2 linked regions of the Homo sapiens genome follow. The protein of the gene in region 2 binds, or shares a complex with, the protein of the main gene of each other region. Each region holds a gene or a part of one and is shown on either strand. Other genes may lie near its edges.

What was found. Proteins that work in one complex are often made in the same cells at the same time.
Region 1: the proteins of SMAD1 (region 2) and YAP1 are in contact, whole or in part, in an NMR structure (PDB 2LAW), measured with the Homo sapiens proteins. Residues at the interface, in NP_001003688.1 of Homo sapiens: Thr222, Pro223, Pro224, Pro225, Ala226, Tyr227, Leu228, Pro229, Pro230, Glu231, Asp232, Pro233; in NP_001123617.1 of Homo sapiens: Glu237, Ala239, Met240, Thr241, Tyr247, Ile249, Asn250, His251, Lys254, Thr255, Thr256, Trp258.

What each region holds. Positions count from the first base shown.
Region 1 is NC_000011.10:102,106,146-102,113,464, reverse strand, and holds the start of YAP1 (transcriptional coactivator YAP1), read right to left. Parts: upstream 3,019-7,319; 5' UTR 2,617-3,018; coding exon 2,296-2,616; intron 1,917-2,295; exon of another isoform or gene 1,694-1,916; intron 1,018-1,693; exon of another isoform or gene 720-1,017; intron 1-719. UniProt on the Homo sapiens protein: Transcriptional regulator with dual roles as a coactivator and corepressor. Critical downstream regulatory target in the Hippo signaling pathway, crucial for organ size control and tumor suppression by restricting proliferation and promoting apoptosis.
Region 2 is NC_000004.12:145,554,853-145,559,706, forward strand, and holds the end of SMAD1 (mothers against decapentaplegic homolog 1), read left to right. Parts: intron 1-2,938; coding exon 2,939-3,082; 3' UTR 3,083-4,324; downstream 4,325-4,854. UniProt on the Homo sapiens protein: Transcriptional modulator that plays a role in various cellular processes, including embryonic development, cell differentiation, and tissue homeostasis.

The DNA.
Region 1 (7,319 bases), on a different chromosome or scaffold from region 2:
TCCACAACTCTATACAAGCAGAAAAAATTCTGCATTCAGACCCCAAAGATCTGAGTTCCAGTCTAAGTTGGCTAGTGTGACACTGAACAAGTATCTTAACTTCCATATGCCTGTTTTCTCCTTTATAAAATAGTTTTCATGATAGAAAAATGGATGTATATGAAAGAACTTACAGTCACCAGTTTGTGTTGTGAACAATAGTATTTACAACCTAGATTTGTACTATTCATAATCTTGCATAGTTTTTAAAATATTTTTAATTAGCATTAGAGTTTGATTATCAAAAAGTTAGAATTTCCTAGATTCACAAAGGTAAGGAAACTGGAAGGACTCAGTAGAGTCATTAATGCCTTAAAGTGATACACCTTTTTGAGTTTCCCATCAGAATAAGTATGATTTAGGAAATCATTAGGAGAAATAAAAGTCGAATTTACAGATGCAAAACACTTAGTTAAAAACTTATTTAAAACAAACAAAACTATAATAGTTTATGAATTTTAGAACTGCTGGATATAAATTCTTGTAAAAATTATTTACTAGAAGAAAAAGTACACTTCCCAGTTGTAATTCTTTGTGGCTGATGCCACAAAATGGGGGATCCAATCTATGTGTATTATACTTTGAAAACATACCGTGCAGTCTGTAGGGTGCATGCCAACATACATTTACCCACAATGAGTCCATAAACCCACTTCGAGGGGTAAGAGAAAAAAGCATACCTAAGACAAATTGAAGTGTTTAGGCAAGCAGCTAAATTGTTTTTCCTTCTTTCCTCCTCCTTAACCCGGGTTTTTGTCATCAGGTTAAGTGATTTTTTCTGAGTTCCAAAACCCTTTGGTCTCCGACAGGAGACTATACAACAGGCCTGCAAATAGGAGAGGGAATGGGAGTGGGGGCGGTAACTCTTCTTTCCACTCAAGTTACATCCCGAGTGGGCTAACTACATTGCAGTATTTGGAAAACCTATTAACTTTTGGGCAAAGTTCCTATGCTGAAGTTTAGCCTGAAGCAAGTTCTCAAAAAAAAAAAAAAAAAAAAAGAAGAAGAAATAAAAAAGAAAGAAAAAGAGAGAACCCTACACAAAACAAATCCACTGGGACCTATTGGAATGTTAACACTCATTATAAACAGTTTCACTTCTATGCTGAATCAAGTTGGCACAATAATCGAACATTGTGTATGTGGAATAGCAGCCATGTTCATATCCGCAATAAGAATTAAAAAGCAATGGCGATCCTAGAATTAGTCATCGCTTCCCAAACATTAACTTTTAATCACAGTTGAACTAGGCAGGACTTGGCCTATGAGTCAACCTGCAGTGTATTATCAAAGGCTTGTGTTAAAACCTCGGTACTGTAAAGCGCAACTCAGTTCCTGCGCAACGTACAGATGTGGCTAATTCAAAAGCGTTTCAGCCGACTGTAAATAATAGTCTACAACTGGGAAACCAACACGCGACCTACTAAGTTTGATAAGAGCAAGCCGGCCCAAGTTCCAACACACAAGGGAAGAGCAGGGGTGAAAGAACTCCATAAACAACTTCCAGGAAAGTCTGGGCAGGGGAAGCCCGAAACCTGTATTCCGAAATCGCCTGAGCCGCGAGGAAAATAAATGCTTACGGGAGGGGGAGGGGAAACGGGAGGGGGGAAGGAAAGAAAGAGCAAAAAACTAAATGGACCGGTTCTACCCCCACCTCTAATCAACACTGGAAAACAAGAGAACAATTATTTGACTCCCCCAGGAGACTGAAGTGGACCGAGAGGCCGCAAAGGAAAGGGGCCCAGGGCTCAACTTCACAAACTCGGCCGCCGCTGGCAACACACCCACACACAAATGCCAGAGGCCCCCCTCCCCCTTTCCCAGCCCGGCCCGGCGGGAGCGAAGGTGCGGAGCGCGCGGAGGCGCGCGCATTGTGCAAGCCCACCGCGGCCCAGGCCCGACTTTTCCCCACCCCCTTCCTTCCTCCCCACCCCTCCTCCACTCCCGCCAACCTCTCGGGAACCCCGGGAAGAAAGAAAGGAAGAAGGAGGGAAAGCACGCCCCCCGGGGCTGCAACCGCAGAGAGAAACTCAGAAGGGAAAAACAAATCTCAGCCCCGGACTCTGGGAGGAGTGGGGAGCTGGTCACCGCGGCGGAGTGGACGACTCCAGTTCCACTTCGCCTCGGGACCCCCACCCCAGCTAGAGTTCCCGCAACCCCCCTCCCCTGACCAGAGCTGGCGGCCGCGGCTCCCGAGCGCCCCCCCGGTCTGAGGCCCGCCCGACGGGGAAACGGGGAGAGGGGCAACGAGGTTACCTGTCGGGAGTGGGATTTGGGCTCCGGCGGCTTGAAGAAGGAGTCGGGCAGCTTCCGGAGCCTCATGGGCACGGTCTGGGGCACGTTGGCCGTCTTGGGGTTCATGACGGCGTTGAAGAGCGCCTCCAGGTCGGTCTCCGAGTCCCCGCGGACGTGCACGATCTGATGCCCGGCGGGGGGTGCCTGCGGCGCCGCCTGGGTCGCCGCGGGTGCCGGTTGCCCGGGTCCGGACGGCGGGCCCTGCCCCTGCGGGGGCTGCGAAGGCGGCTGCCCTTGGCCCTGGGGGGCCGGTTGAGGCGGCGGCTGCTGCCCGGGATCCATGGCTTCTGCCTCCCCCGACGCGCACCCCCTGACCCAGGCGAGCGAGGGCTACGCCCGGACGCCCCGGCTCCACGGGCCGAGGTGGAGAAGCGGCGACGGCTGCGGGCCGGGCGGCGCTGTCCTCGCTCTCAGGGCCGGGGGGCTGCGCCGCGGCCCCGCATCCCCCGCCCCGGCGCCTCCGCCCCCGCCCTGCGCCCCGGCTCCACTGGTCTGGCGGCTGCGCCTCGGGAGGGGCTGCGAGGCACTCGGACCTGCGGCGCCTGAGAACTTTTTCCCTCCAACTCCCTTGACGGAGGCCGGACAGCTCGTTGCCTTTCCCCGCCTCCCCTTTCTCTTTATTTCCTTTTCTTGTTCCTTCCTTCCTCCCTTTCTTTTCCCTGGCGGCGGCTGCGCCCGACTGAGACAGAAACTCGCCTCAAACGCCAAAACTAAAGTTAGGAGAAGCGCCCGCCCGCGCCGCCGCGGCCCCGCCTCCTCTCGGCTCTTCCTTCCTCTGCGCGCCCGCCCGCACCGCGGCCCGGCCGGCAGCGCAGGGAAACTTTTCGCTGCAAGTTGCTACATTCCTGCACACTCCCGGCCCGCGGCGCCTCTCCCGGCCGCACGTGACCCGCTCGCCCTGGCCCGGTCCGCCCTTCGCCCGCGCTCAGCCGGGCAGGGGCCCGAAGCGTGCCCCGTATTCTGCCCCGCGAACCGCAAACGATGGGTCCAATCCGGGTCCGAACTGTGGTGTCTGCGGAGAACGCGGGCGCCCTTGGCTGCAGGAAGTTCTTCCGCTCCGCTCGGCCCCTTTTCCCCGCCCGTGCTCGGGAAAGGCGCTTCCAGTTCGCCTGGACCTGCGAAAGGGCCAAGGCCGAAAGAAGTGGAGAGAGGATGTGCGAACCCACCTCCTCCTCCTCGCGTTACCCCGGCTTGACCGAGCGGAGCGCCTGTGCGAGCTTAAAGCCGCGAGGATAGATTGGAGTTAAAATAGATACCGTGAGCCGGCATTGATGTTAATAAAGATCCATTGTTTTCAGCATTAACTTTATTTTGTAATTGTTTCACTTATCTGTTAGTCTGCAAAAACTCACTTGAGAGGGGTAAACGGTTACTGTAATTGAAGCTTTGAGACCAGGTCTGTAACTCAGTGTAACTTATTAAAAGAAACAAAAACACTACATTTTCCAAATAGTGAAATCACATCAACTTTTTTAGTACTCGAATTTGCAATAGTCACTGGAAGCCGCAACCCAAAAAATTAGTGCGTCTTCAGGTACAAGCATTCATGCCTCTGTACCTGTCTTTCATCCTCAAGGAGCTGGGTCCCTACCCCTGCTATCCCTGTGCCTGGCCCAACGGTGGACTCCGTTAATGTGGACTGAATAAGAAATGAATGGGCAAGGAGGTCATCCCAGGCACCTGATGTACAAGGAGCCCTTCTGGAAGCCACTCAAAAACAATAGAAATGTTTTTTAAGTCATACACTCTGGGTTTTTTTTTTTTAAAGCATCCTTGTTGAGATATAATTTATATACCATACAGTTTTTGCAATAGTTGTACATATTAGTATATTTAAGCAATTCACTGTTTTTTTAAATATATTCATAGGATTGTGCAACATCAGTCTAATTTTAAATGCACAAGCCCATTCTAAGGAAATCTGGCTTTCTTGTTTTAATGATTTTGTCTACAATGCTAGTGAAACAAAGGTATAAGTAGGATTAAGCAAGGAAAAAGTCCGTGAGCAAAAAGGTAATTTCTTCCTTCAGCCAGAACATGCCCAGGAGAATTCTGAAGGATCTGTATCACTTGGTGTGGTAGGGCTCGGCCAAAGGAGCAGGCCTCAGACACTCAAAATTCTAACAGAAGATTCCAATCAACTACTCTGAACCCCCAGTTTCCTGTCTGAAAAAAAGGATCAGAGTAAATGACACCCATGACTAGTTCTTGGATTTGTTCCCACTCCTAAATGTCAAGTGCATTTAACGACAGACTTGCAGGTTCTGGAGTTACAGAGTTTTGAGTTCAGGTCCCAGTTCTGCCATTTACTAGCTGTGAGGTTTTGGACAAGTTATTTATTTCCTGTTCTTTAATATTAGCATCAGGGGTAATAACACCTACCTCATAGTTGTTGGGGCATTAAATGAGTCAATGGATATAAAGTACTTAGCCCAGTTTGGGACGTGCAGTGAGTTCCACATCAATGTCAGTTGTCATTGTTGTCCCATGTTCACAGATTATTTCACAGGTAGTAACATAGCCTCTCCTTGCAGCAGCCCTCTCTTTCTAAGCACAGCCTCAGGGACCCTGTTGGTAGTCCCTTCCTCTCTTATCCAATAATCAGTCCACACAAACAAAACCTTTGGGCAGAAACTATGCATTAAAAACTTTACCTGAAAGAAAACTTTAGGAACCAAAGTGGGCCGGGTGCGGTGGTTCATGCCTGTAGTCCCAGCACTTTGGGAGGCCAAGGCAGGGGAATCACCTGAGGTCAGAAGTTCGAGACCAGTCTGGCCAAAATGGTGATACCCTGTCTCTACAAAAAAAAAAATACATAAAAATTAGCCAGGTGTGGTGGCATGTTCCTGTAGTCCCAGCTACTCAGGTGGCTGAGGCATGAGAATCACTTGAACCCAGGAGGTGGAGGTTGCAGTGAGCTGAGATCACACCACTGCACTCCAGCCTGGGCAACACAGCGAGACTCTGTCTCAAAAAAAGAACCAAAGTGATTGAAAACCTGGGATTGGAATAGAAGCTGTCCCTTTACTAGAGCATTTACTGCTATGAACACTAACTAAAGGGCTTCAGATACAGCAGAGGCTGCTTTGTTCAATATTGTTTCACCTGCCATTAAACTGAGGACAAAATTACTTTGATAAGTGGAGTGAAAGGGTCTTTGGAGTGACTATGTTCTGTAAGCACTTCTGTATCATCAACCAAGATTTTGTAATTTACTATTCCTCGTTTATACAATTTCAACCACGGTGTAGTAGGGGATAAAGATAACATATTCAGTCCTTTGTCTACTCCCTTCCTCTTCTGCCCATTTTGTGGACCAATTATCTGTTGGCAGCATCTTAAAATAGGGAGTCACCTTCTTCGTATAAAGATGCACCCTTATCCTGGATCATTTTCAATGTCCAGGTAGATCACTATCTCAAAACATGCGTATCCCAATTAGTTGACCTGTCAACTAAAATGGACCCTCATCTCTACTTCACTTTAGCCACCTGCCCCTTCGTCTGTACTCTGCATCATCCAGAAATACTCCAGTAGTGAAGTCAGACTATGGTATACCATATTCTTAATAATCATCTGGTTCTCTTATTTCATTACTCACATCTCATTTATCCTTAACCTCTCCCTTTTCTGCAACCTATCACTCCCTTCCCTTTTCATTTCTGTTATGGTTTGGGTGTTTCTGTCTCTCCAAAATTCATGTTGAAACGTCTCCAGTGCATCAGTATTAAAGAGGTGGGGCCTTTAAGGAGGTGATTAGGTCACGAAGGTTCCTCCCTCCTAAATGGGATTAAGAACTTTATACAAGAGGCTTCACACAGCATTCAGCTGTTTTGCCCTTTCATCTGTCTGCTGTGTGAGGACACAGCCTTCATCCCTTTAAGAGGATGCAGCAACAAGGCACCATCTTGGAAGTAGAAAGCAGCTGTCATGAGACAGCAAACCTGTTGCTGCCTTGATCTTGGACTTCCCAACCTCCGGAACTGTGAGAAATAAAATTCTAGTATTTATAAATTATCCAGTATGTGGTATTTTTTATAGCAGCACAAACAGACTAAGATAACATCCTTGCCATTCAGTTTGGAAATCGTAATTCATTGTTTAAACTTCCCATGCCAGGCATGATGGCTTATGCCTATAATCCCAGCACTTTGGGAGGATGAGGTGGGTGGATCATCTGAGGTCAGGAGTTCAAGACCAACGTGGCAAAACCCTGTCTCTACTAAAAATACAAAAATTAGCCGGGCATGGTGGCACATGCCTGTAATCCCAGCTATTTGGTAGGCTGAGGCAGGAGAATCACTTGTATCCAGGAGGCGGAGGTCACAGTGAGCCGAGATTGTGCCATTGCACTCCAGCCTGGGCGAAAGAGCGAAACTCCATCTCAAAAAACAATAATAATAATAAATAAATTTCTCACAATTATCTAAATCTTCAATCCCGTTCTCTCATGGATTTTAATGAACCGAATCTGTTATACTGTTTTAATCCAGTTATCTGTGTTTTATTCCAACGCCTAAGCTTATAGGGCCTAGCCCCACATTCATGAGAAGCTTCAATCAAAGCTTTTAACATTTTGTCCAAATAAGGTTACACTACCTTCCCAAATATATGCCTACACTATACAAGGAGGCATTCTTTGTAGAACTTTAAACTTTGTCTCATCACCAAATGACACTATCTATAATGCATTATGAATTAATAGTTTAAGTAGGCCAAGTGTGGTGGTGCACACCTGTGGTCCCACCACTTTGGGTTGCCAAGGGGGGTGGATCACCTGAAGTCAGGAGTTTGCGACCAGCCTGACTAATGTGGTAAAACCCTATCTCTACTAAATACAAAAAAATTAGACGGGCGTGGTGGCACATGCCTGTAATCCAAGCTACTTGGGAGGCTGAGACAGGAGAATCACTTGTACCTGGGAGGCAGAGGTTGCAGTGAGCCAAGATGGAGCCATTGCACTCCAGCCTGGGCAACAAGAGCAA
Region 2 (4,854 bases):
TTATATGTTTGAGTGAGGCAATTATCTTTTATGTCTTCTCTTCAGAAGCTCACCAAACTTGTTGTTAAACCTGTTTTGTAATGTATTTATTACTGAGGATAATTTTGGAGCCTTACTTGTTAATCATCCCTTAGATCAAAGATATCTTTTCCTGAATATAGTTACTTTTCCTACTTATTTAAAGCATCTTAGATTTTCAGTGTGTTCCCTTAGTGTTTGTTTTTGTGTGTTTGTTTGTTTGTTTGCTTGTTTGCTTTTTGCAGTATACTTCAACAGTTATTTGTAGTTGAGTCTGGTACCTTGTTAGTATTAAGAAAATTTTTTTACCCTTTAAAGAGGTTAACCTATATGTTATGTACATATGGGACTACAAAGAACTATCTTATTCATTGTTAACATGTGCTGTTTAATTTTTGACTTAGCATTTGGCTCAAATGATTTTTAAAATAAGAACAGTGACCTGCCAGAAGTGTTTTTGTTTATTGTTTTAATTGGTATGGAGGAAAGAACAGCTCTTGAGAGTCGAGATGCGGTTTCCAGTTTTTTCTGCCATTTTAACTGTGTGATTAAGGCACAGATTTCTTCTCTGGTTCTCAGGTTTATCGTCTTTGAAATGGGGGTGGATGGAGTTGAGAACTGTGGTAATTATTACTGAGGTCCCTCAGTGAGTCTGTTATTGAAGGACCACTCTAAGAGAATTTATTACTTTAATGTTCCAATTAGCTTTCTGCTCAAACTCATTTCTTATTGTTTACCCAATCAATTTTAATTATTTTACTTTTGTAGAGTTTTAATAATTTACTTTTACACAAGTAAAAACAACCTTTACACTAATAAAAGGTATTTATAATGCAAAGTTATGCATTCAAAATTTATTAGATTTCATTCATTCAGCAGATATTTTAGCACTATTTCAGAGAAGTAATACAAAGATGAAAAAGCACCTAAAGTCTCTTATCATCAAGATCCTTATGCCCTAGTATATCTTTAATTATAATCTGATAAGCACTAGAATGGAGAGTTATACAAGATATAATGAACTTAGCCTGGAAGTTGGATTTGGAGAGCTGAAGGTAAATATTATTTAAAAATCCTGCTGAATGTTAAAGAAAAGTTGTTTATCATATGTTAGCAACAAAAAATTTGCACACTGTTTTTACAAAACTGTTCTTTATTATAAGGACTGCATACTTTGTCCTCTCCCATTCAACATTTTAAAGAAATTAGAACATTTTACTAACAATAGCCAATCTTGTGCTGTTTTTAAAATGATCATTTTTGGATATTAACATAAAACACATTTTATAAATTATTTGTACTTTAAATTCTATGTCTGAAAATTCCAAGTCAGCTCAGCTGAACACATATTTATAGAGCTTCTGCTTTCTGTCATTATGCTGTATATTGGAGGTAAAGATAAATTCCTGCCTTCAAAGATCTTGCTATCTGATGGAGGAAACCTGCACATAAGCCTGTAAATTAATTTTAGGAGTTTGTTTATATTTACAAATGCATGAGTGTACATACATCTATGTAGATATATATATATCTACATAGATGTAGTTCATACAAGTTCTGATGTTCAGATATATTTTCTTTTTTCTTCTTTTTTTTCTTTTTTCTTAAGACAGTCTCGCTCTGTCGCCCAGGCTGGAGTGCAATGGTGTGATCTCGGCTCACTGCAACCTCTGCCTCCCAGCTTCAAGCAATTCTCCTGCCTCAGCCTCCCAAGCATGCTGGGATTACAGGCGTGTGGCCACCGCACCCAGCTAATTTCTATATTTTTAGTAGAGACAGAGTTTTGCCATGTTGTCCAGGCTGATCTCAAACTCCTGACCCCAAGTGATCACCTGCCTGAGACAGAGTCTCTCTCTGTCACCGACGCCAGAGTGCAGTGGCGTGATCTTGACTCACAACAACTTCCGCCTCCTGGATTCAAGTGATTCTCATGCCTGAGCCTCCCAAGTAGCAGGGATTACAGGGATACACCACCACACCTCGTTTTAGTAGAGACGGGGTTTCACCATTTTGGCCAGGCTGGTTTCGAACTCCCGACCTCAGGTGATCTGTCCATCTCGGCCTCCCAAAGTGCTGGGATTACAGGTGTGAGCCACCGCGCCTGGCCCCAGATGTATTTCTTAAAACTACGGGAGTAGATAGATAGCAGAAATAAATAGAACCCAACCTTCTCTGATATTCCTCATGAAACAGTGATTAAAGGATTAATCAGAACTTCACATTCATTGTCCACCCTCACCAATGAGTTTTTGATCTTTGCAGTAGCAGTTACTTTTCTCTTTTTCATAGTGACTTTATTCTATGGAACTGTATTGTCTTAATGCACTAATTCTGCCAAGCTACCTTCTTGTACAAATGAATGATAGAATGTATTGATTCATGGCAATGGCTAGGTGTCAATAATAGCTTTTTGGATACTTGAATGTACTCCTGCCCGTTTTGCTCAGAGATTGAAAGATCAAGAGCTGTGTGTTGATAGGGGGACCTTCAGTGGCTGAATAGGGAAGAAATTGAATGTCATTCTGTCTAGCATAGCTTTTTTGTTTTATTTTCTTGATGATAAAATGAGAATTTAATAATAGCTATTACATTACTATCAGTAATGGGCAATTAAAAGTTTTAAAGTGTCTTTATTAAGATAACTTTATAATGTATTTTAAAACCTTCATTCCTCAAGACCAGCAATTCTTATTGGAATCCATGGATGGACCCTGGGGAGCTAACATCCATCCCTTGAAATTGCCTGCGAAATTATGCGTGCGTTTGTGCATGTGTGTTTTTTTCTCCCCAGGGGCGGGGGGGTCAGGGAGGAAAGATGCATAGCTTTAATCAGAGTCTTTGGTTATGTGAACTCTTCTTACTTAATAAGTTTAACCACTGAGTTAAACAAGTTAAATGACCTCCAGTATGTTTTTCCTAGGGCTGGGGAGCAGAATACCACCGCCAGGATGTTACTAGCACCCCCTGCTGGATTGAGATACATCTGCACGGCCCCCTCCAGTGGCTGGATAAAGTTCTTACTCAAATGGGTTCACCTCATAATCCTATTTCATCTGTATCTTAAATGGCCCCAGGCATCTGCCTCTGGAAAACTATTGAGCCTTGCATGTACTTGAAGGATGGATGAGTCAGACACGATTGAGAACTGACAAAGGAGCCTTGATAATACTTGACCTCTGTGACCAACTGTTGGATTCAGAAATTTAAACAAAAAAAAAAAAAAACACACACACCTTGGTAACATACTGTTGATATCAAGAACCTGTTTAGTTTACATTGTAACATTCTATTGTAAAATCAACTAAAATTCAGACTTTTAGCAGGACTTTGTGTACAGTTAAAGGAGAGATGGCCAAGCCAGGGACAAATTGTCTATTAGAAAACGGTCCTAAGAGATTCTTTGGTGTTTGGCACTTTAAGGTCATCGTTGGGCAGAAGTTTAGCATTAATAGTTGTTCTGAAACGTGTTTTATCAGGTTTAGAGCCCATGTTGAGTCTTCTTTTCATGGGTTTTCATAATATTTTAAAACTATTTGTTTAGCGATGGTTTTGTTCGTTTAAGTAAAGGTTAATCTTGATGATATACATAATAATCTTTCTAAAATTGTATGCTGACCATACTTGCTGTCAGAATAATGCTAGGCATATGCTTTTTGCTAAATATGTATGTACAGAGTATTTGGAAGTTAAGAATTGATTAGACTAGTGAATTTAGGAGTATTTGAGGTGGGTGGGGGGAAGAGGGAAATGACAACTGCAAATGTAGACTATACTGTAAAAATTCAGTTTGTTGCTTTAAAGAAACAAACTGATACCTGAATTTTGCTGTGTTTCCATTTTTTAGAGATTTTTATCATTTTTTTCTCTCTCGGCATTCTTTTTTCTCATACTCTTCAAAAAGCAGTTCTGCAGCTGGTTAATTCATGTAACTGTGAGAGCAAATGAATAATTCCTGCTATTCTGAAATTGCCTACATGTTTCAATACCAGTTATATGGAGTGCTTGAATTTAATAAGCAGTTTTTACGGAGTTTACAGTACAGAAATAGGCTTTAATTTTCAAGTGAATTTTTTGCCAAACTTAGTAACTCTGTTAAATATTTGGAGGATTTAAAGAACATCCCAGTTTGAATTCATTTCAAACTTTTTAAATTTTTTTGTACTATGTTTGGTTTTATTTTCCTTCTGTTAATCTTTTGTATTCACTTATGCTCTCGTACATTGAGTACTTTTATTCCAAAACTAGTGGGTTTTCTCTACTGGAAATTTTCAATAAACCTGTCATTATTGCTTACTTTGATTAAAAATTTGTCATTTCCTTTATTCACCTACTAGATTTTAGGATCAGTAAAGTTTGCTACTCTTCTGAGAATTTTTTTCTCAAATATCCTCCACCAAACATGAATGAAATTACTAATACAGAGACTCGAACACAGCAGCATGAAGAGACCGGAGCCAATTTAAATCAAAACAAAGGACATGTACACCTTGAAAAATTGAGAAAAACTACCAAAATCTAAGTGTATAAACTTTTTAATTTTAGAAATTACAGCAGCAGCACTTTTTGGTTAGTACCATGCAGTCAACCAAAGCAGCAATTTCTAAACTTCAGATGAAGATACAAGCGTGACTGTGGGAGGAGGTAATAAAGGGGGAGGGATGAGAACTCACACTGCAGCAGGAGAAGATGACTACCTTTGCAGTCTACTTAAGGCTGGGATGATCCCAACACTACCCATTCCCCCACAAAAAAGTTTACCAATGAGGGACACAGATTGAAGGACACTTAGATTATTTCTTGGCCCAATAGATGCTATTCTTTCTCCTTTACATTTTT